Homo sapiens: one gene and its partners. The protein of the gene in region 2 interacts with the protein of the main gene of each other region in a pairwise test. Each region holds a gene or a part of one and is shown on either strand. Other genes may lie near its edges.

Region 1 (7,537 bases), on a different chromosome or scaffold from region 2:
GTGTGAGTGCCTGGACCTTGCTCTGCCCCATGTCTGAGGACCTTGCCCTGCCCCGTGTCTGAGGACCTTGCCCCATCCTCGGCACCCAGAGCTGTGCAGTCCATAGGACCAGGCTGGTGCCCAGCCCCAGGTTGGTGCCTCAGCTGCCTCCTCAGCCTGCAGTCTCCACTGTTTGACTGACCATGTGCAGGGCCAGCTGTGAAGGACAGCACAGCTCCTCCCTCCCTGCCAAGTGTCAGGGGCACTAAAAACACTGCCATCAATGTTCTGATGTTTAAATCATGTTTTGATGCAATGTTTAAACAAATCAAAATGGGTCGGGCGCAGTGGCTCACGCCTGTAATCCCATCACTCTGGGAGGCCGAAGCGAGTGGATCACCAGAGATCAGGAGTTCGAGACCAGCCTGGCCAACACGGCGAAACCTCATCTCTACTAAAAATATAAAAATTAGCTGGGTGTAGTGGTGTGTGCCTGTAATCTCAGCTACTTGGGAGGCTGAGGCAGGAGAATCGTTTGAACCCGGGAGGCAGAAGTTGCAGTGAGCTGAGATTGTGCCACTGCACTCCAGCCTGGGCGACAGAGCGAGACTCCATCTCAAAAATAAATAAATAAAATAAATAAGTAAATCAAAATGAATGCAAAAAATTTGTGGTGGACAAACTGTCAACATTTTACATAAAGCCAGGATGAGGACGACGGCCTTCTCCTTTTGCTTCAAGCTCCAGCATGGCTCTGCCCAGCACTGACCGTGCTCCTGGCCTGGCTCGACCCTCCCCAGGGCCAAGCTCCATGCTGGTTTCCATCCCAAAGGACTCTTCTTCCCCCTCCCTGTGCCCCGGGAATAGGCAGCCAGCACAGTGGGGCCGCCCGCTGCCTCACCCAGACCCTGCCACTGCTTGGATGTTGACCCCCAGACTGGAAAGGTGGCTTTAAACCCCCTTCCCTTCTTCCAAGCCAAGTGACCTGGGTGTGCGGCTTAACCTTCTAAGCTCCCATTTCCTGGTCTATGAAGCGGGAATGATGCTGGGACCTGCTTCACAGGGTGGCTCTGAGGACCCACAGGCAGAGAGGTCTGGTGTAGGCTTTCGGGGGAAGCACCCATCACTCTCCCAGCGTTTCCTATCTGCACCTTAATTTGGCACCCCAGGGAATCGCTCCTCTGGAATTGTAACCTTGCAGGGCAAAAGCTATCATTTCAAGATTTTTTGGGATCCTGTGTCCCCGGACAGTGCTGTAAATGTAGGAGGAAGGGTGCTGCTCATGGGTGCTGCTCATGATGGAGGTGCCCCGTGGAGCACGCCTCGGAGCCCCCCCTTTCATCCCTGATCCCATCTGGGATGTGTCAGGTCTGATCCGCATACACTGGGGCATCTGACATTTCATGGCCTTCTGAGCCCATGGGCTGGAGATGAATTTGCAAAGCCCGGGAGTGTCCTGGGTGTGTGTTCACTCCACACGCACGAATCTGTTAGAGGCTGAGTAGGAACTAGGAGGCCAAAGAGAACCAGGCAACTTCCCACAGCCTGGACCGTACACTAGAAAAGCTAGCCTGGGAGAGGGGGCATGGCCTCTTCCCAGGCTGGCAGGGGGGATGTGGGGGAGGACCATGCTCCCCAGGGCCAGTTTACCAAAATATCAAAATACCAAAATATCAAAAGACTTAAAACTAGGAGTGAGCCAGGTGCAGTGGCTCACGCCTGTAATCCTACACTTTGAGAGGCCAAGGCAGGTGGGTCACCTGAGGTCAAGAGTTTGAGACCAGCCTGGCCAACACGGTGAAACCCTGTCTCTACTAAAAATACAAAAATAATAATAATAATAATAATAATAATAATTAGCCAGGTGTGGTGGCAGGCACCTGCAGTCTCAGCTACTCAGGAGGCTGAGGTGGGAGAATTGTTTGAACCTGGGAGGCAGAGGTTGCAGTGAGCTGAGATCGCGCCACTATATGATCTGGGCGCCACTCTGGGTGACACAGCAAGACTCCATCTCAAAAACAAACAAACAAAACCGGGAGTGCCTGGACACTTAGTGAGAACTGGACAGGGGCCATGGGTCGAGGAGCAAAATAATCACCAGGACTTGTGGATAACAGGATCATGTGGGTGGTGGGTCCGCATGGGTGACAGGGACGTGGGGACATGTCGCCACCCTGACAGGAGCAGCCCAACTCAACAGCCACGGCAGGTCATGCCACGGAGGCTCGAGGCGTTACGTGGGGATGTTACATCAAGGCATTACATCATTACGAGATGTAACGCTCGAGGCGTTACATCGAGGGGATGATGGCCATGGGGCTGGGCGTCCAGGGTGGGCCGCAGAGGGAAGCTCACCACGTGGTGCTCTCATCTGCCCACAGCCCAGCCCGTCTTCCTGTTGGAGGCATGTGACCCCTGGAGGACAAGCATGAAACGCCATAGGGCTCCCCCAGGTGCTGGAATTATGGCACCTTGCAGCTTCTTCTCCACGAGTTTTAACAAGCATGCGTACTTTTGTAAGTGGTGAGTGTAACGGAGGTTCACAGATGCACTCCGCTTTGGAAACCAGTGCACTCTTGCCCAGGCCCGGTGAGACTCTGACGACGATGTGTCTAACCTCTGTGTCTAACGGGGGTGTGGGCTCTCCCTCCTCTGGCGACCATGAGGACCACCCCGGCAGGACAAGGTGTGCAGAGAACTAGCATGGTCCCTGGCACGTAGCCCCTGCCCAGTGACTGGCAGATGAGAAGCTCCATTGTCGCCCCAGGCGAGTATGGGGCACAGGCGCCTCCTTGGGTTGTCTGCCCTCCCGGGAGCCCCAGGGTGCCCAGGCGGGCCTCAGCTGAGTCCAGGCCTCGGGGACAGTCCGTGCAGCCCCTCCTGGGGCTGGGGGCGGGCACTTGTCCCAGCCACGTTTCTGCTGACTGAGCAGCCTTCTTCATGAGCTCACGCCTTTCCAGAGAAATCCCTTAATGCCTCCATTCTGCTGGTGGCATATATAGGGAGGGCTCGGCCTTGGCTCCACACTGCGCTGCCCAGAGGCCCCGCTGACTCCTGCCAGCCTCCAGGTCCCCGTGGTACCAAAGCTGAACATGGATGTGACCATCCAGCACCCCTGGTTCAAGCGCACCCTGGGGCCCTTCTACCCCAGCCGGCTGTTCGACCAGTTTTTCGGCGAGGGCCTTTTTGAGTATGACCTGCTGCCCTTCCTGTCGTCCACCATCAGCCCCTACTACCGCCAGTCCCTCTTCCGCACCGTGCTGGACTCCGGCATCTCTGAGGTAAGACGTGGCCCGTGGTGCTGGCCTCTCCTCGCTGCTCAGAGGGTGGTGGCCTCGGTGGGTGGAGAGCGATGGACTCTGGTCTTGCTCCGTCAGGCAGGTGGCCTCGTCCCACTTCATCCCCTTGCAGAGGCTGGGCGAGAGCCTGTGTCCCCACTGCAGCCACGTGGTAGAGCTTCCCCTGGCACTGGGGAGAGGGTGGACAAGGGAGCAGCCTGAATCCACCTTTGCTTTCCTCCATCAGCTCATGACCCATGTGTGCTTTGTAAGGCACCAGCCACATACTGGAAACCCCAAGAGCAGCCCATCCAGGCATGCGTGGTGGCGAATGCCAGCTCCCGGGTTCCTCTGGTCTCCTGAGTCCCGGAGACCTGGGAGCAGGTGGGGGTCATAGTCCTGAAAGCCAGAGAGCAGGGCGTTCCTAGCACCTCCTCCAATGAGCTCGGCCTGCCCACGGCTAGCAAAGCTCTTGGCAAGTTTACTTAGGTGCCCTGCCAAGGCTAAAAGGACAGGCAATGGACGCCCCCCCCCCCCACCCAACCACAGGCCTCCTCTCTGAGCCACGGGTGAGCGGTGCAGGTTCTGCTGTTCTGGAGGGCCTGAGTCCCACCCAGCACCTCATAAACAGGGTCCTCCCCAGGGCTGCTGCAGTAGGCATCAATGCCAGGGTGCAAAATGCCTCAGGGAGCCAAGGCTGAGCCAGGGGAGTGAGAAGGAGCATGTGGAAGTGCGTTTTGGAGAGGCAGCTGCGCAGGCTGTCAGCAGGCTCCGGCCGCTTCTATAGACAGCATGACACCAAGGGCAGTGACCTCATTCCACAGGCTGAGTCCAGCCAGCCAGCCAAGCATCACCAGCCAGACGATTGACCCTAACGGACCAACCAACCCGTAACGACCCCTCCTACCATAACCAGTAGCCAGCCAGCCCATAACCAGCCAACTTATCTATAACCAGCCACCTGACCATAGCCAAACAACCAGCCGGCCCACCAGTAGCATTCAGCCCCTCAGCTGGCCCTGAGGGTTTGGAGACAGGTCGAGGGTCATGCCTGTCTGTCCAGGAGACAGTCACAGGCCCCCGAAAGCTCTGCCCCACTTGGTGTGTGGGAGAAGAGGCCGGCAGGTGACCGAAGCATCTCTGTTCTGATAACCGGGACCCGCCCTGTCTCTGCCAACCCCAGCAGGGACGGCACCCTCTGGGCAGCTCCACATGGCACGTTTGGATTTCAGGTTCGATCCGACCGGGACAAGTTCGTCATCTTCCTCGATGTGAAGCACTTCTCCCCGGAGGACCTCACCGTGAAGGTGCAGGACGACTTTGTGGAGATCCACGGAAAGCACAACGAGCGCCAGGTGAGCCCAGGCACTGAGAGGTGGGAGAGGGGGGCGAGTTGGGCGCGAGGACAAGGGGGTCACGGCGGGCACGACCGGGCCTGCACACCTGCACCATGCCTTCAACCCTGGGAGAGGGACGCTCTCCAGGGGACCCCGAATCAGGCCTGGCTTTTCCCCAAGGGAGGGGCCGTGCCCACCTGAGCACAGCCAGCCCCTCCCGGTGACAGAGGTCACCATTCCCGAGCTAATGTGGCTCAGGGATCCAGGTTAGGGTCCCTTCCCGGGCTGCACCCAGCCGTCGCCAGCTCCATCCCTGTCACCTGGATGCCAGGGTGGTCTTAGAAAGAACCCCAGGAAGTGGGAGTGCCCCGGGTGGCCGCCTCCTAGCCAGTGTACATCTTCACATGAACCCTACCTGAGGAAGCCAGTCCCCGACGGCATAGCTGCATCCGCTTGGAATGCTTTACAGGCATTGACACCTTCGCCTCACAGCAGCACTTTGGAACCAGTGTCCTCATTATTCCAGGGCACGGCTGGGGAACAAGGGGGTCCTCAGCCTGCTGGGTCCCACAGCTAGTACCGGGCAGGTGGACGGGAGCTTCTCCCCACAGTCACCCTGATGCCCCGCTCTTGCTCGGCTGGAGGCCTCGGATCTCCGTGGTGTTGAGGGAGCCGGGGCACTGGAGCCCTGGTGACCTGCATCTCCTGGCGGAGCCGGGAAGAGCTCATGGACTGTCACAGATGGACAGTGCCCCGCGGGGGCTGGAGAGCAGAGTGGGGCTGGAAGGTGGAACTCTTAGCCAAAGTCTTGGTTTCTTTTGGCCAGGGTCCTCTTTCAATGGCTGGAGAAGGTGGTGCTGGGGGGTGAACGCTGACCTCCTCATGTGCTGCCCCTCCCTCGCCTGGGCCCGGTAAAGCCCCCACGTAGCCCCAGCCAGCCTGGAACATGCTTCCTGAGCTCCCAGCTCTTGGTCTTTGCACCCAGTGGAGGAGGAGGTCAGCCCAGGGAGCTGAGTCTGCGGTTTAGGGCGTCCAGGGGACGTGGAAGCATGTGGGTCGTCTGGCCACATTAGGTAGGGCTGCAGAGACCTGGGCTAGAGCAGTCCTGCGGGGTCTGGAAGGGGAAGACTGGCTGAGGTGCGGGGCCTGGTCTGGAATGATCCTGCGATTTTGGAGTGAAGCCATGGAGCGGGAAGAGACAACCCCCCGCGGGGAATAGCCCGGCAAGTGGCCACGAGGCCAGGCTGAGGTCCAGAGAAGCAGGGGCATGAATCCATAAATCCCAGGGGGCCTGGCCATGGGATGTGCTGGCTGCACCCGGCCCCTGTGAGAGCCCCCGCAGGCTGGCCCCCTTCTGCAGTCAGTGGGGCTGGGGCAGCTTCTCTGGCATGGGGCGAGGCAGCCGCCTGCACAGTGGCCCCCCTGACTGTGCGCCCCCACCCTCTCCAGGACGACCACGGCTACATTTCCCGTGAGTTCCACCGCCGCTACCGCCTGCCGTCCAACGTGGACCAGTCGGCCCTCTCTTGCTCCCTGTCTGCCGATGGCATGCTGACCTTCTGTGGCCCCAAGATCCAGACTGGCCTGGATGCCACCCACGCCGAGCGAGCCATCCCCGTGTCGCGGGAGGAGAAGCCCACCTCGGCTCCCTCGTCCTAAGCAGGCATTGCCTCGGCTGGCTCCCCTGCAGCCCTGGCCCATCATGGGGGGAGCACCCTGAGGGCGGGGTGTCTGTCTTCCTTTGCTTCCCTTTTTTCCTTTCCACCTTCTCACATGGAATGAGGGTTTGAGAGAGCAGCCAGGAGAGCTTAGGGTCTCAGGGTGTCCCAGACCCCGACACCGGCCAGTGGCGGAAGTGACCGCACCTCACACTCCTTTAGATAGCAGCCTGGCTCCCCTGGGGTGCAGGCGCCTCAACTCTGCTGAGGGTCCAGAAGGAGGGGGTGACCTCCGGCCAGGTGCCTCCTGACACACCTGCAGCCTCCCTCCGCGGCGGGCCCTGCCCACACCTCCTGGGGCGCGTGAGGCCCGTGGGGCCGGGGCTTCTGTGCACCTGGGCTCTCGCGGCCTCTTCTCTCAGACCGTCTTCCTCCAACCCCTCTATGTAGTGCCGCTCTTGGGGACATGGGTCGCCCATGAGAGCGCAGCCCGCGGCAATCAATAAACAGCAGGTGATACAAGCAACCCGCCGTCTGCTGGTGCTGTCTCCATCAGGGGCGCGAGGGGCAGGAGGGCGGCGCCGGGAGGGAGGACAGCGGGGTCTCCTGCTCGCGTTGGACCCGGTGGCCTCGGAACGATGGGGTCGCCTGCGTCCCTTCCTTCTCCTGAGCTCAAGCGCCTCCCTCCACACTGGGCTGGAAGGAGAGGTTTTGGGGGCAGAGCCTCTGATGGGAAAGGGACTGGGGAGCGGTTCCGAGAGCTGGGGGCGGGGAGGGACCTGGAAGGGGCTGCAGGGAATGGAGGGAGGCCGGGCTCCTTTCTCTGTCCGCGCCGGCACCGGGGCGGGACGCCAGCCCTGGCCTCCTTCTGCGGGGCCGTCCGGTTCTCTCGGGGTCTGCTGGGTCGTCCTGTTCTCTCGGGGGTCCTGCTGCCTTCGGGGCTGGGCTTTAAGGGCACTCGTGCTTTTGAGGAGCTGGAACTCGGCAGCTTCCCCTGGGCAACCCATCATGGCCCCGAGCTGGAGGCGGAAGCTCGCTCTGTCCCCTCCCGGGACCAGACACTGGGCGGCCATGCCAGACCCCGCCACGGGGAGGGAGACTCGGCCTGGGGGGCCCTGGCTGCCTGCTGCGCTCACCGAGGGGCATCCGGGGGGCCAGAGGGCACCCAAGGGGAAGCAGACGCCACGGCGGGTGGGCCCTGCCAGCGCCCTCAGCCAAGTAAAGCGCCCTCGACCCCGGAGGCCGAAGGCACCGGGACCCTGAGGCACTGGGACCCCCATGGCAC
Region 2 (8,139 bases):
ATGTAGCCATGTCTGGTTTCTCTTTAGGGTGGGATTTGGCTTTCAGCAAGCTCCTATTAAACAGTAAATGAACTAAATAAACACAATGCTGCTTCATTTGGCCATAGCTATGCCAGGATCTCTTCATGAAAGACGAACAGCAAAGAGAATTAGAATGCAAATACTCTACAAGACGGACAATACTGGGCTGGGTGGTGGCTCACCCCTGTAATCCCAGCACAGTGGGAGGCCGAGGCAGGCGGATCACTTGAGGTCAGGAGTTCGAGACCAGCCTGGGCAACATGGTGAAACCCCATCTCTACTAAAAATAGGAAAATCAGCTGGGTGTGGTGGCGGGTGCCTGTTAATCCCAGCTACTTGGGAGGCTGAGGCAGGAGCATTGCTTGAACCTGGGAAGCAGAGGTTGCAGTGAGTCAAGATCATACCACTGCACTGGGTGACAGAGCCAGACTCCGCCTCGAGAAAAAAAAAAAATGTGTAGCCCAGGATGCTCAAAGGGTGGGGCCTTCTCAACATTCCCACCATCCTCATGGCAAACCCCTGGATTGTAGAGGGATTCTGCTTCTCTTTCCCCTCCTTTTTTGCATTTGAATTTGGATTACTGGGTTTTATTTCTACCCCTCCCCTGGCAGCAACAGATCTTTGCCCATTCCCTGAGACAGAGAGAATTTACTGCTTTTGCTTTTTTTCTTTCTCTTTTCTTTCTTTTTTTTTTTTTTTTTTTTGTGACGAGTCTCCCTCTGTCGCTCAGGCTGGAGTGCACTGGCTTGATCCTGGCTCACTGCAGCCTTCCCCTCCCAGGTTCAAGCAATTCTCGTGCCTCAGTCCCCAAGTAGCTGGGACTACGGGTGTGCGCCACCACGCCGAGCTAATTTTGTATTTTTAGTAGAGACAGAGTTTCACCATGTTGGCCAGGCTGGTCTCAAATTCCTGACCTCAGATGATCTGCCCGCCTTGGCCTCCCAAAGTGCTGGGATTACAGCCATGAGCCACTGTGCCCAGCCTGCTTTTTTAGAAGAGAAGAGTCCAGAGGAAGCAGGTGGGGTCTGTGCCTGTTCCTGAGCAGCTGGATGCCCACCCCACAGAGAGGTCTCTCTCCGGGCTCTTTGCCAGTCCCCATCTTCCTTGTGAAGTACGGTTTCTGATGGAGGTTTATTAAAAAGGGCTTATGAATGAATGTGAACTCCCTTTGTATCTGAGGCCCCCAGCTAGTCCAAACTCACATGCCAACCTACACTTGGCCTTTAAGACTTCATTAAAATTATAGCCGATTTCCTGTTGCCAACTAGTTTGGCAGTAACCTCTTTCTCCTGCGCTCTGCCAAAGGTGAAGGGGTTCTTGTGTTCTGTCTTTGGAGAGGCTTCTGTTGTCTCTCTTTGGCGCTGAGGTTACTTGGTTGCCTTGCAACCTCAGCTTTCTGATGGGCTCAACAGAAGTTACAATTTGGTAGATTATCCAGCTTTTCTCATTATGATATTGGGAGGGAGAGCCTTTGTAGCTTTCTACATTCTAAGCCCATTCCACAAATCTTTATTGAATGCATACTATGTGCCAGGCATTATTCTAGGTGCTGGGGATAAAGTAGTAGAAAAAACAGGCTGAGCACAGTGGCTCACACCTGTAATCCCAGCACACTGGGAGGCCAAGGCGGGCGGATCACTTGAAGGAGTTTGACACCAGCCTGGCCAGCATGGTAAAACCCCATCTCTACTAAAAATACAAAAATTAGCCAGGCGTGGCGGCAGCTGCCTACAAACAGCTACTCGGGAGGCTGAGGCAGGATAATTGCTTGAATCCACGAGGCAGAGGTTGCAGTGAGCTGAGGTTGCGCCACTGCACTCCAGCCTGGGTGACAAAGCGAGACTCTGTCTCCAAAAAAAAAAAAAAAAAAGTAGAAAAATAGATCTGATTTCAAGAGATTTATATTCAATTGAGGAGAGGCAGATACAGATAGATAGAATATTATATATCATAATATTAGATGCCAATAAGTTCTATGAAAAACACTTAAGCAACTGACAGATAAGACAACCATAGTGTATTGGCCGGGTGCTGTGGCTCACGCCTGTAATCCCAGCTCTTTGGGAGGCTGAGGTGGGCAGACCACCTGAGGTCAGGAGTTCGAGACCAGCCTGGACAACATGGTGAAACTCCGTCTCTACTAAAAATATAAAAATTAGCCACGTGTGGTGGCATGCGCCTGTAATCCCAGCTACTCGGGAGGATGAGGCAGGAGAGTCGCTTGAACCTTGGGAGGCAGAGGTTGCAGTGAGCCGAGATCACGCCATGGCACTCCACCTGGATGACAAGAGTGAAACTCCATCTCAAAAAAAAAAAAAAAAAAAAAAATTAGCCAGGCATGGTTGCGGGCGCCTATAATCCCAGCTACTCAGGAGGCTGAGGCAGGAGACTCGGCTGAACCTGGGAGGCAGAGGTTGCAGTGCGTCAGGATCACACCACTGCACTCCGGCGAGACTCCTCAAAAGAAAAAGGAGAAAAAACATTTGATTTCAAGAAATATATATATATATATATATATATATATATATATATATTTTTTTTTTTTTTTTTTGAGACAGAGTCCCGCTCTGTCGCCTAGGCTGGAGTGCAGTGGTGTGATCTCGGCTCACTGCAACCTCTGCTTCCCAGATTCAAGCGATTCTCCTGCCTCAGCCTCTGAGTAGTTGGGATTACAGGTGCCCACCACCATGCCTGGCTAATTTTTGTATTTTTAGTAGAGATGGGGTTTCACCATGTTGGTCAGGCTGGTCTCGAACTCCTGACCTCATGATCCACCCACCTCAGCTTCCCAAAGTGCTGGGATTACAGGTGTGAGGCACCGCCCCCGGCCAGAAATATATATTTTTGTATTCAATTAGAGCCAGATAACATATAGATAGAATATTATATGTTATAGTATTAGATGCTAAGTTCTATGAAGAACACTTAAGCAACCATAGTGTATAAATGGTACCTCCTACCCCTTCCTCCCCTATTCGTGTAGATACTGTCTATAATTTACTGCTTTTGTTTCCCTCTCCTCAATCTCTATGGTGGAGAATGGGCTAGACTGCACTACTCTGATAATATAACTTAGTAAGATTTCAGCTCCAAGTAGTAAATGGGACCATCATTCCCATTCCCATCAGGAAGGATAAAACTGCTCATAAACATGCCCGGTATTCTGCATAAGGCCAAACTAGTACCCGGTGGACACAAAGCACAGGTGTTATACTTCGACTCAATACAGGAAGAACTTTTAAACCATCAGAGCTACCTGCAAAAGTAATGTACTTTTCTGGAAGATAATCAATTTCCCTTTCTTGGAAAAGTTGCAGCTTTGGGTTTATAAGTTACATTGTCTGCAAGCTCCCAACTGCCACCGAGGGTCTCCAAGCAGATAGGTGGAGTGTACATTTCCTGACTTCTAACAGTAGAAAGCCTCCACCAAAGGCTCTTCAGGATATCCCTAGGAAGCTGCTCACCTGTGCTACTCAGCACTGATTCTTTAATTTCTTTGTACAGATGAATAAACCATGGTTTATTTTATTTTACTTTTTGAGACAGGGTCTTGGTCTGTCGCCCATGCTGGAGTGCAGTGGTGCGATCTTGGCTCACTGCAGCCTCGACCTCCTGGACTAAAGCGATCCTCCCACCTCAGCCTCCCAAGTAGCTAGGACTACAGGCCCATGCCAGCATGCCCGGCTAATTTTTGCATTTTTTTATAGAGACGGGGTTTCACCATATTATCCAGTCTGGTCTTGAACTCCTGAGCTCAAGTGATCCTCCCGCCTCAGCCTCCCAAAGTGCTGGGATCACAGGCATGAGCCCCTGAGACTGCAAATAAACCATGCTTTAGAGAAGGTAAGTGTCTTGACCAAGGCCACAGAGCTAGGAAGCAGCTGGCTGAACTGGGATTGAGGCCAAGGTAGTGCCTTTGATGCCAAAACCTGCTGTCCTTCCTCACTATCACCCAACCTCTTTCCAGTGGCTCCACACCCATTGTGGTGACAGAGGCACCTTCTGCTGAGTGTAAACTCTTCTGGCTGGAATTGTTTCCCAGAGGGTAGGGTGCAGCCCCGAGGGCCGGGGTTAAAAGTCAAGCTTCTCATCTGGACTCATCAGTTCTGACTGAGCACTTCTGCCTCAACCCGCACTGCCATCTCTCCATGAACGTGACACAAAAGCCCTTGGTTTCAGAAAGCCAGTTTCCGGGCAAAGAAAGCTTTCCACCCAGGGCCTGGCGTGAGCTGAGGGCAAGAATTAAAAAGAGTCGGGCGCGGCGGCTCACGTCTGTAATCCCAGCAATTTGGAAGGCCGAAGTGGGTGGATCACCTGAAGTCAGGAGTTCGAGACCAGCCTGGGCAACATGGTGAAACCCTGGTCTCTACTAAAAATACAAAAATTAGCCGGGCGTGGTGATGTACGCCTGTAATCCCACCTACTCGGGAGGCTGAGGCAGGAGAATCGCTTGAACCAGGGAGGTTGCAAGGAGCCGCAATCGCGCCATTACACTCCAGCCTGGGGGACAGAGCGAGGCTCCGTCTCAAAAAAAAAAAAAAAAAAAGGGAAGGCCACCAGCTAAGGTCCGGCGTCAAGGCACGGGCCCTCCGTCCGTCTCGTGCCGAAGGAGGGCGCGTGCGCCCCTTCCCCTGCCTCTGACCTTTCCATGGAAGCAGCCCGTTAGGCGAAATGGCGATCGACCAGGCGAAACGTTGGTGGATCCTATGGCAGCGCGCGTGGCAGGCAGCCACACCCGGGCCCGGCTTCGCCCAGCGCTAAGGGCGTGGAGCCGCGCCGCAAATGGCGCGCGAGCCTCCTGCGCACGCGCGTGCAGCGCCTGGGGTCGGGCCAGCGGCGCGGCTGAAGCGAGGGCGGGGAGGGAAAGCGAGCGGCGCCTGCGCCCCGGCGGTGGACGGGCCCGGTCGTGGGCGGGGATTGGGGCGGAGCCTGACCGTTACGCGCAGCCCCGCCCCCGCGGCCTCGTCGCTCCTGCTGAGGCGGTAGCCGCTTTTCGTCGACTCTTACCGGTTGGCTGGGCCAGCTGCGCCGCGGCTCACAGCTGACGATGGGGGACCCCAGCAAGCAGGACATCTTGACCATCTTCAAGCGCCTCCGCTCGGTGCCCACTAACAAGGTAGCGGCCGCGGGCGAGTGCGGGCCTGCCTGGCATCCCTGCGGGAACCGGCGGGAGGCCCCGCGGGCGCCAGTGCCCGTGGCTTGGGAGGCGGGGCCGGCGCGGCCTGTGACACGTCGCACTGTGGGGCCGCGGCAGCCTGGCCGGGCCGGGGCGGGCGGGGCCGGGCAGCTGAGAGGCCCGGGCGGGAGGCCGCAGCGCGGGGGTCCTCACGCGAGCCGGGGAGCGTTCCCGGGGGCGGCGGCGCGGGCACACCCCCCGGCGAGCTCTTGGGGCGGGGGGCGAGCACCGGCGGCTCTGAGCGGAGGCGGGGGCGGGGGCATCCTCGGGGGCGCTGCGAGGAGGGAGCTCCCGGCTCGGAAACCCCGGCTGCTGGCGCCGGATGCGGGGAAAGCGCGGCTCCCCCAGCGCCACCCTGGAGCTCGACCCCGCCTGTTGGAGCCGGCTTGGCTCCTCGGGCCTTGCGGTGCCTGCCTCAGTTTCTCTTCTGATAAAGTTGCCGAGTAGTCTACGCTTTGGCTTCCAGCTTTTGTCGCTTTGGCCAGGGAGGCTCACCACAGCCTCCTCCCTCTCCTCGGTTCTCTTTGGAGATGGAGGTTTCCTTTTTTTTTTTGTCTCCAGAGGCTGTTCTCTCCCTGGAACTTTTACAGCTTTGCGCAGCTGGCTGGAGGCGTTGGGGTGACGCAGGGGGCTAAGGTGACACGTCGGGTCGGAGAGGGACTTGGAGAGTGCAAAGGGCTGTCGCGTCAGCGTGGGCTCTCCCCGCCCCTCCTGTGACACGAGTGTTGTCTGGTTCCCACTGTCACTTCCCGAAGGGAACAGCTGTTATTGAACCTCGATATGCTGGCATAGAAAGTTCCCGAGTGTTACAAAATAGGTGTTTCTGTTGGTTTTAAGTCTTGATGGTACAGGGGAGCCCATATTTTTTCCAGCCTAGGTGAGGAAGGAAACAGTTTATTGGAGGTGATGTCTGATGGATGTGGGAAAGTTAAGAGAAAGGCTCCAGGAATTCTCCAGTGCCCGTTTCTTTACTGTTCTCTTGATTTTCACATTTTTATTTATTTATTTTTTTAGAGACAGGGTCTCACCCCGTCACCCAGGCTGAAGTGTAGTGCCTTGATCCTAGCTCACTGCAGCCTTGACCTACCCAGCCCAAGCCATCCTTCCTTCCCAGCCTCCTGATGAGGCTGACACCACAGGGCTGTACCACCACGCCCAGCTAATTGTTATTATTAATTAATTAATTAATTAATTTTTGTAGAGACAGGGTCTTGCTATGTTGCCCGTGCTGGTGTCAAATTCCTGGGCTCAAGCAGTCCTCCTGCCTCCTCCTGCCTTGGCCTCCCAGAGTGCTAGGATTACAGGCATGAGCCACCATGCTGGCCTTAATGTTCTTTTTTTTTTTTTTAACGTTTTAATTTTAATTTTTTTGAGACAGAGCCTTGCTCTGTCGCCCAGGCTGGAGTGCAGTGGTGCGATCTCAGCTCACTGCAACCTCTGCCTCCTGGGTTTGAGCAATTCTGCCTCAGCCTCCTGAGTCGCCAGGATTACAGGCATCCACCACTACACTCAAGTAATTTTTATATTTTTAGTAGAGACGAGGTTTCACCATGTCAGTCACTCTGGTCTCAAACTCCTGGCCTCAAGTGATCCACCCGCCTCGGCCTCCTGAAGTGCTGGGATTACAGGCGTGAGCCACCGCGCCCAGCCTTGATTTTTAAATTTAGATTGATGTGTTTATAAAGAGTGGGTCCTGTGTAACTTAGTCAAGATTAGGATCTGCGGTTAGCAATGTGTAAACTATATTTTTTTGTCACCTTTATCTCAGAAACATCAACATGTATTCTCTTTGATTTAATTCAAAGATAATTTTAAATTAGAAATCAATGTCTTTATATCAAGAGGCTTTTGAGAGACAGGCTTGTATTGTCCAAACTGCTACTTTCTAGGTATGTCACCCTTGGACAGGTTACTTGACCACTTTGTCCCTTTTTTCCTCCTCTGAAAATGGGGCATGAACTAGACCTGACTCAGAGGGTTATTGTGAAGATTAAATGGAATAATCCAAGAAAAACACTTAGAGTAGGAACTGCATATAATAGTCTTCAATAAATGGCAGCTGTTTTTATGATGAAGAACACACCTGTGAAAAATTTATATTCTGTAATAAGATTAATAAAAGCAATGAGCAAAAATGTTTTCTGGTAATGTTTAACAGTAATGTGCTATATTTCTTGGTTGAGACCTTTTATTTGATCATTGGTTTGAAACCCTTACCTAAACGAAGATAACAATAGCATTTTAAAATTGGGGTCATAAAAGACAGCTCTAAGATACATGAGCCAGGAAAGGTAATCAAAGAAAAACAAGTCGGCTTACTTTTAGAACATGGTATCCAATTTCTTCGTCTCATGTATGATGATTTACTCTAGATCAAAGGTCATGAGGGTCAATTCTCTTTTTTCTTTTTCTTTCTTTTTTTTTTTCTTTTGAGACAGTCTAGCTCTGTTGTCCAGTCTGGAGTGCAGTGGTGCGATCTTGGCACACTGCGACCTCCTCCTCCCAGGTTCAAGCGATTCTCTTGCATCAGCCTCCTGAGTAGCTGGGACTACAGGCGTGTGCCATCACGCATGGCTAATTTTTGTATTTTTAGTAGTAATGGAGTTTCACCATATTGGCCAGGCTGGTCTCAAACTCCTGACCTAAAGTGATCCGCCTGTCTCAGCCTCCCAAAGTGCTGTGATTACAGGCGTGAGCCACCGCACCTGGCCAAGGGTGAATTTTCTTGTTTGTGGAAATCCTTCTTTGTTGCTATACCATTCCTTACTTTTATATAGATTGGGTTATTCATTCAACAAGTATTCATTAAGCACCTATGCTATGCTGGGCACTGTGTAGAGCATGAAAGGTATGTACACTGATGGTATGTTCCTGTCCTCAGGGAACTTATAGTCTAGTGGACAGATGAAGGGCAGATGCAGGACGGCAGGTGGTATGTTTTC
Region 3 (7,750 bases), on a different chromosome or scaffold from region 2:
CCTTTGAGTCAGGTTCAAATTTTTTCTCCTCTTTAACCCCCAGTCACTCCAGTTATAAGTGATTTTTAACTCTTCTCACACTTTAATGCATCTGGCAAGAAGATCCACGTGGTGTTAGGAACAATACAGGACCTTAAGGATGGGGGAATCAGCAGGTGTCAGCGTGCCCTGTATGCTCAGGGCAGCTGTTTCCACTGGACATTCTCCCTTTGCCTCTCTGGGCAGCAACTCCTAGGCCAGCCGACCTGCTGTGTCGAGTAACCAGGATTTCTCAATCTTGGCATGGTTGCCATTTTGGACCAGATCGTTCTTTGTTGTGGGGGCTGCCCTGTACGGCAAAGAATGCCGAGCAGCACTTCCAGTCTCCACCCACAGGACGCCAGTAGCACCCTCTAAGTTGTGAGAACTCAAAATGTCCCCAGAGGATGCCAGATGTCCCCTGGGGTGGGGACACAATCACCCCAGGTTGAGATCCATGGAGCCAGGTCTGTTTGCCACCAAGGGGTAAAGCTCCATTCCCACCTTAGGAGGGCTAGGAGGCAGCATCGTGGGGCCACAGAAGGCCTGGGTTTGCAGTCAGAGGACAGGATGCACATTCCTTCAAGATACAGACCCAGATTGTTGGGCATCTAGTTCTTGGGTTTTCTGTTGTTGCTGTTCCGTTTTGTCTGTCTTCCCTCCTTTGTTTACTAGCAGCCTGGAATTTGCCACTTTTTCTAAACGAAGATTTATGGAACACTTACCACACGGCTGACGCTGCGCGAGGCTAAGGTTCTAATACACCGCAGCTCACTTAACTCTCGCAATACCATAAACGCACACTGTTTCATCTTGACCCTTTCTTGGGAAGGTGACAGAGAGGTAGGAGGGCAAACATCTTGTGTGCCCCGTCCCAAGGGTATTACTGGTGGAATAATATCCGCCCCCCACCCCAGTTTCTAATTTGCTGTAGGCTGTGACGCTGTGGGGCAAGACTAGGAGTCCTGTTGAAATTAGGAATAAGTGTGCTGTGAGGGAAGGGCTGCCTTATTTTAGAGCACAGATTTTCTGAATATCTATTTTGACAGGTTCGATCCTCTCCCCTTCCTGCCTTCCTTCTGTCGATTTTCAATGTCTTGATGGTGTCCCACCTGAGTGGCCTTTAGAGATGTGAGTTGTGAGGCACTGGGGAGGCAGGCACACGTCCTCCAGCCCAAGACTGCCTAATTTAACAGGGATTTCTGCATTCTGGAACAAGCCTCCATTTTCCCCAAGCAGGATTACTCCAGAGGGCAAAACACAGCCCAATAGTATCACATTTCCTTTCTGCTTTAGCAAAAATAACCACTGTCTCATTCATGGGAAAAGGCCGCCAAACAAATTTGTTACTGGAACCATTTGTAACAACTTCTAGTTTGCACTGCCTTGGAGCAAGCACACTTTGTAGAGGAGGGATTTGCAGTTACTTGGGCAACAAGGTAACCACTGATCATTACAGGAAGCTTCAGAAACCGTGGGACCAGTGTAGAAGAATGGACTATCTGTCCAAACTAAGAATAAAAAGAATGACACTTGTATTTTGTATGTCTTTTTCACTTTGCCTTTCTAGTAATTCATTTTTCTTGATATTTACACCTTGTGGCCCTGTGATAGACTGGAAATCTCAAAAACACACGTTCAGCACCAAGATTTTCAGCAGCACCGCCTCAGAATGAGACCCCTAGAAAAAACTGCGTGTTTTCCACTTGCCCAACACGAGGAGTTTTTGGAACACGACCTGCTTGAGGTGGAGATTTTCTAGATGGGCAAAGAGAAGGAAACACTTAACCTAGGAAGAGTATTTAGGAAGAAGAAAGAACACAGCCTTTCTGCACAGGAAACCGCCGAGCAGAGGGGCATCTGGCCTCTGCAGTGGCCTCCAAATAGAGTCCAATGGCTGGGGCCAGCGTGGCTGCTTAAAGGGGACTCAAGGGATATAATAAAATGCAGATTCTCAGGTCCTAGTGCAGACAGGCTCACCCAATAAGTCTGGACTGCATATGGGAATCTCTATTTCTAGGCCCTTCTGCAAGGTATTCCTGCTCTTTCCAGGAACCATCGGCAGCTGGTTTGGGGAAAGAAGCAACGACTCCAAGTGTGACCTGTGAGCTGGCAGCAGCCACCCTCAGCTCTGCTCTCGGTCACTGAATCCGATTCTGCATTTTAACAGGACCCCAGGTGTTGCACCCACACAAAGCTGAAGCAGATTGGTCTGGGGGCAAAAAATTAGAGCTATGGAGATTCTCTCAAATGAAATAGATGATATCATTGACTGTTAGAGCTTCTAGAAGGAATCTGAGGTCACTTGTTCAAATTCCCTGATTTACAGATGAGGAAACAGAGGCTCAGACAGCTCAAATGACTTCTCTCCAATACCCAACATTCGACAAGTAGCAGCTCTGGGACTAGTACCCAAAGCACCTAGCTCTCCAATCACTGCGCAAGCCACACAATTCTGTCTGCTTGTCAGTGGCTTTTCTGATTCAAAAAAAGCTTAGGAATTTCCCCAGGAGGCAGCACGATGTAGTGGGAAGGGCTCTGGATGTCTCTCCAAGGCTTCTGGAATTCATGCCCACCTCCACCAAGAAGCCACTTTCCTGCCAGCTACAGGTGCTCACCTGAAAAGCAAGCCAGACCATATTAACCCTGGCATTGCTGGTACCTGGAAGACTTTCTGATTCAATGCTTTCCACCTCCTCCTACCCCTCACCACCCCCGTGGCATGAAATCCTGGGGGCTGCTTTAGAAATTGTTTTCTTTGGCTGCTGGTGGGGGTGCTGCTGGTGGGGGTTTGCACAGCTGGCACACTGCACCAGTCTGGTGGGGGTTTGCACAGCTGGCACACTGCACCAGTCTCCTGCCTGCTGCCAACAAGGCCATTTCCCAAGCACTGGCTTTGGAGAAGTTGGGGCTCTGAAGTGGGAACACAAGGCTGCCTTTTGCAGGCCAGGTGTAAATTCTCCCCCTGCCACTTTCAGCCTAGCGTGAAACAGATGGAGTGTGCATTCCCACTTCCCTTTATGGTACCCTGGAATGATGGAGCTGCCCAGGGCATCGCCACGTTACTCTCTAGACAGTCTCTTTGTCTTCCTGCAATGGCAGCGCCGAGGTTGTATATTTCTAGGTGCAGGTATATGATTGCCATATAATAAAAATCTGAAAACATCCCACCCGGGGCCTGGGCTGGACAGCAAGCATTAGCACAAAACAAACACACTCATTTCATTTCCTTTATGTGGTTAATGTCAGCACTCCCAGAGTATTCTCTCTTCTTTTGAGAATTCTAAGAGCAAAAAAGTGACCACTTTTTTTTGTATTGAGTAGCAATAGTCAAATATCAAATTAGTACATCTAGGCCAAGAGAGGATGAAGGGGAGCCAGGCCAGGAAAGTCACCCAGAAGAGGTGACACTCTCTTCCTCAGGTTCCACCAGAAACATGTTTATACCCAGGGAAATTACAGAAGGGGTGCCAGGCTGCCCACCTGCCTCACAGGTATGCCCTATTGTCCGGGTAGTATCTGTTACCTTAACATACAATGAACCCCAGTGTCTCACCAAGGCTGGGCAAACAGGGTGACCCAGAGGAGGGATCCATGACACACAGCAAGGGACTCAAGGACAGGCAGAGGCTCACAGTCAGTCATAGGAGCCTCAGGTCACCTGGAGAGGGACCTCACTCACCAGCAAGGAGGACCACCACCCCGTTCCTGCTGTACCCAGTGTGGGGTTGGGGCAAGAGTCAGTGCCCACTAACCCCCCACCTCTTCTCCAGCACAGGTAGACCCTGAATTCAGGGGCCAATGCTTGACCTGCTCTAGTCTATGAATGAGATGTTACATAAATCCCAAGGCATGCTGTCAGATACTAGGGAGAAGGAGAGAAACACCACCTTTAAATTCCTCCCTCTCCACCCCTGGGAGCAATGCAGCTACGTACCACCACCACAAAAGAATAGCCACTTGGCCGCGCGGTGGCTCACGCCTGTAATCCTAGCACTTTGGGAGGCCGAGGTGGGCAGATCACTAGGTCAAGAGATCAAGACCATCCTGGACAACATGGTGAAACCCCGTCTCTACTAAAAGCACAAAAATTAGCTGGTTGTCGTGGCACACACCTGTAGTCGCAGCTACTCAGGAGGCTGAGGCAGAAGAATCGCTTGAACCTGGGAGGTGGAGGTTGCAGTGAGCCAAGATCAGGCCACTGTACTCCAGCCTGGCAACAGAGCGAGACTGTTTAAAAAAAAAAAAAAAAAAAAAAAAAGGCCACTGATCACAACAGCTATCCTTATCATTTTGGGATCATTCCAGGAGGAAAAAGGAAAAATGGGCAGGCAAGGGGAGGTGAAGCCAACTTACCTACAACAAGGAGATCACACAAGGAGATCAGGGATGAGTATGGCGGGAAGTATGGGGGGAAGCACCTGTTTCATATTAAATATATCCTGATTGATAAGGGGGTTGCCTTATAATGTCTTTAAAACATGAAATACTGAAGCTTTCTACATCCATCCCAACATAAGTGTTTATTACTCATAGGTATTTAAATATCATTGATCTAATCTTGTACACATTGGATTTCTCTCATATTATACATTAATTTCAGCAATTCTAGAATTAGTGCAACATGACATGGGACATTTTAAATTCTTTTTTTCGAGACAGAGTCTCGTTCTGTTGCCCAGGCTGGAGTGCAGTGACACGATCTCGGCTCACTGCAACCTTTGCCTCCCAGGTTCAAGCAATTCTCCTGCCTCAGCCTCCTGAGTAGCTGGGACTACAGACATAAGCCACCATGCCTGGCTAATTTTCATATTTTTAGTAGAGATGGGGTTTCACCATGTTGACCAGGCTGGGTCAGGTCAAACTCCTGACCTCAGGTGACCCGCCCGCCTCAGCCTCCCAAAGTGCTGGGATTACAGGCATGAGCCACCGCGCCCCGCCTGACATTTTAAATTTTCAAGCAGTTACTCTCCAGCAGGAAAAACAATACAGAAGTACAGAAGGGAAGCAGAAACACTCCTCTCTTCCTTCTCCCACCCTAAGCCCCAGGGCACTCTCTTGCCGCAGGCTTCATATCAATACAGCACTAAAATCGTCATTTGTGTATTGCCTGTGATAACAATTACACTTGAATCCCAAATTGAAATTATTAACAATTAAAAGGTGAGGTAGAATCAAAGAAAAAAAATCCATAGAATGAAAAACTTAGAATGAACTTGTTGTGGATTAAATCATGTTCCCCAAAAGATATGCTGAAGACGTAACTCCGGTACCTGTGAACTTAACCTTATTCAGAAAGTGGGTCTATGCAGATGTGATGAAGTAAAGATGAGGTCAGGTTAGAGGAGGGCAGGCCCTAATCTAATGACTGGTCTCCTTATAAGAAGAGAGGAATTTGGCCACAGAAACTTACATGGAGGGGAGAGATTGGAGTCATGCGGCCAAGGGTCAAGAAATGCCAGCAGCCATCAGACACTAAGAAGAGGGAAGGAAGGATCCTCCCCCAGAGCCTCCGGAGGGACAGTGTTTCTGCTGTCGCCTTGCTTTTTGAACTCTGGCCTGCAGAATTATGAGAACAAGTTTCTATTGTTTTGAGACCAGGACATTAATGCAGAAATTTGATTCTCCACAGCTGAGGAAAGGGAAGATGAGGGAGGTTACACACTTGCTCCTGGTCACAGGTGTGACACTACAGTGCTCAGGACCTGTAATCACATCAGGATGCTTCCTGTCAAACCACATCATCTCCAGAAGCATGAAGATGGTTCTTCTTAAAAAGTTACTGTAACTAAAACACTGCACCTAAGGAGGAACGGCAGTGACGTGCAAAGACTGAGCTGGGCTGACCCAGATTGACAGCTCCACCCTGCTTTGCCTTCACTAGTGTGGCCCTGGACAAACTACTCTGCCTCTCCAAGCCTCGGTTACCCTGTCTGAAAATTAAGTCACATTGTTGTGCACATTTTCCAGGACGTTGCAAGGATACAATGAGGTGAGCCACGCACAGGGCTTCACGTGCCCTTTGAGTGTCCAACACTCCATCAGCAAGAAATCAAGGTCAGCTCTTGATCTTATAAACTATTTCTCAGACTCCTGTCCCTCCTTGTTGTTTCAAGCTGATTTCTTGGCTCACCTTTCCCAGTCCTCTGTAATACAGTCTTTGATGAATTCTTTCTCTAAAGCCCAGAAGCTGCCACTTCTCACTCGAAGGAGCTGGTGGCAAACTGGCTTTGACTTTCTTGTTCTTTCAACCTCAGTAATTGTTTTTTCTCATTGTCTTTAATAGTTTACCATTTCAAGTGGCTCCATCAGATTTCTTCTTGCTGGGATTGCCTTCTTGTTTTCAGCCTCACCTACAGTCAGCTTCATTTGGGGAGCCTGGATGGCTTCTTCTGAAGAACACAAACTCTTATTGCATATGCTGGATCCATATTTTCAATACAAGTCTTCCAAATAATTGTGTACTAAGAGGCTGATAATCAAGTGAATGCACCATGATTAAAATAGGATTCGCCAAAATAATTAGGTGGCCCTTTACATTCAAGTGTTCAGGTATGAGAATAGTTTTGCTGTCTGCTTTACCTATGTTAGTGGAGATGACAGAAAATCTTTCAGAAAAAGAATCCCAAAGGCTTTTTTTGAAGCTACTACAAGGTATATGGCTGCACACCTTCTCCTGTCTTCAGCTGGAGTTATTGTGTTAACATGAAAGTCTCTTTTTTCATAATAGAAATTGCTGTAATTATAATTACTTTAGAAGAGTGTTATTATTAATAAGACCAAATTGCACGGTTCAAGCAGGTGCTGGTTGAAAGAACTGTTCAAAAGTTCTACAGTTCGAAAGAACCCACATAATGGGATCAGCCGCAAACCTGGCAGTCATCTCCATGCCAACGTGGCCCTGCCTGCCAGCACACACGCCTTGCAGCTCTCAGGCGGGCTTCCGGGCACATGCCTGTGACTCCTCACAGAGTCACTGGGCTTTAAACAATGGACCTCTAGTTCCTGATTAAAGCCTTCGGGGAACAAGCACACTTCCAACAGTTGACTTTCCCATAAAAGAAGGGGAGCTGGAGGGCTCTGGTTCCTGTTGAACCTCTCCTCTCAAGGCCTCTCCCGTGCACACCTGGATCCAGCCCTTCATTCTGTTGCTCATTCAGCAGTGCTGAAGGAAAGAGGAGATGGGGGAACAGCACGGAGTTCCGGAGGGTCCAGTTGCAGTCATACAATAAGTCCCTAACACCTTGGGGTGTACGTTCAGGGTTCTCTGGCTAGAAAGGGTAGTTTGAGGCCAAAACCAAAGAGATCAGGAGGCATGAAGGGAAGGAAGTCGTTATCTGTCTGGTGGTTCAGAACTTGGCTTCTGAAGTTCAGCTCCCTGGCTTCCATTTTTGGCCCTCCCTCTTTCTTGCCCTGTTGCCCTGGAAAGTCATTCAGTCTCTCCGAGCTTCAGTTTTCCCACCCCCAAATGCGTATAAGACCCCCGAGGGGTGGTGGGTGGTGGGTGGGGATTCCTGGGAAAGCACACCTAAAGCACAGAGCGCAGTGCTTGTCACGTACTGAGCTTTCAGACATTGTCTATGACTATTACTTAATTCTTGAAAAATTCTTGGTTATTTATTGCTTGAATTTACAATTCCATTTTTCTCTCCACCTAAGCAATTTTTATTTTAGGCTTCAGAGAATCAGCAGAGAATAAATGCATGACTCCTGGCCATTAATAGAGCAGGAA

Evidence for each region.
Region 1: the proteins of ARFGAP3 (region 2) and alpha-crystallin A2 chain interact in binary tests that used the Homo sapiens proteins (3 or more experiments, as listed by UniProt).
Region 3: the proteins of ARFGAP3 (region 2) and BACE2 interact in binary tests that used the Homo sapiens proteins (3 or more experiments, as listed by UniProt).

What each region holds. Positions count from the first base shown.
Region 1 is NC_000021.9:6,557,712-6,565,248, forward strand, and holds the end of alpha-crystallin A2 chain, read left to right. Parts: intron 1-2,360; 5' UTR 2,361-3,071; coding exon 3,072-3,260; intron 3,261-4,208; exon of another isoform or gene 4,209-4,304; coding exon of another isoform or gene 4,305-4,382; intron 4,383-4,489; coding exon 4,490-4,612; intron 4,613-6,043; coding exon 6,044-6,253; 3' UTR 6,254-6,778; downstream 6,779-7,537. UniProt on the Homo sapiens protein: Contributes to the transparency and refractive index of the lens. In its oxidized form (absence of intramolecular disulfide bond), acts as a chaperone, preventing aggregation of various proteins under a wide range of stress conditions.
Region 2 is NC_000022.11:42,854,112-42,862,250, reverse strand, and holds the start of ARFGAP3 (ADP-ribosylation factor GTPase-activating protein 3), read left to right. Parts: upstream 1-4,977; 5' UTR 4,978-5,068; coding exon 5,069-5,137; intron 5,138-8,139.
Region 3 is NC_000021.9:41,170,669-41,178,418, reverse strand, and holds part of BACE2 (beta-secretase 2 isoform A preproprotein), read right to left. Parts: intron 3,189-7,750; exon of another isoform or gene 1-3,188. UniProt on the Homo sapiens protein: Responsible for the proteolytic processing of the amyloid precursor protein (APP).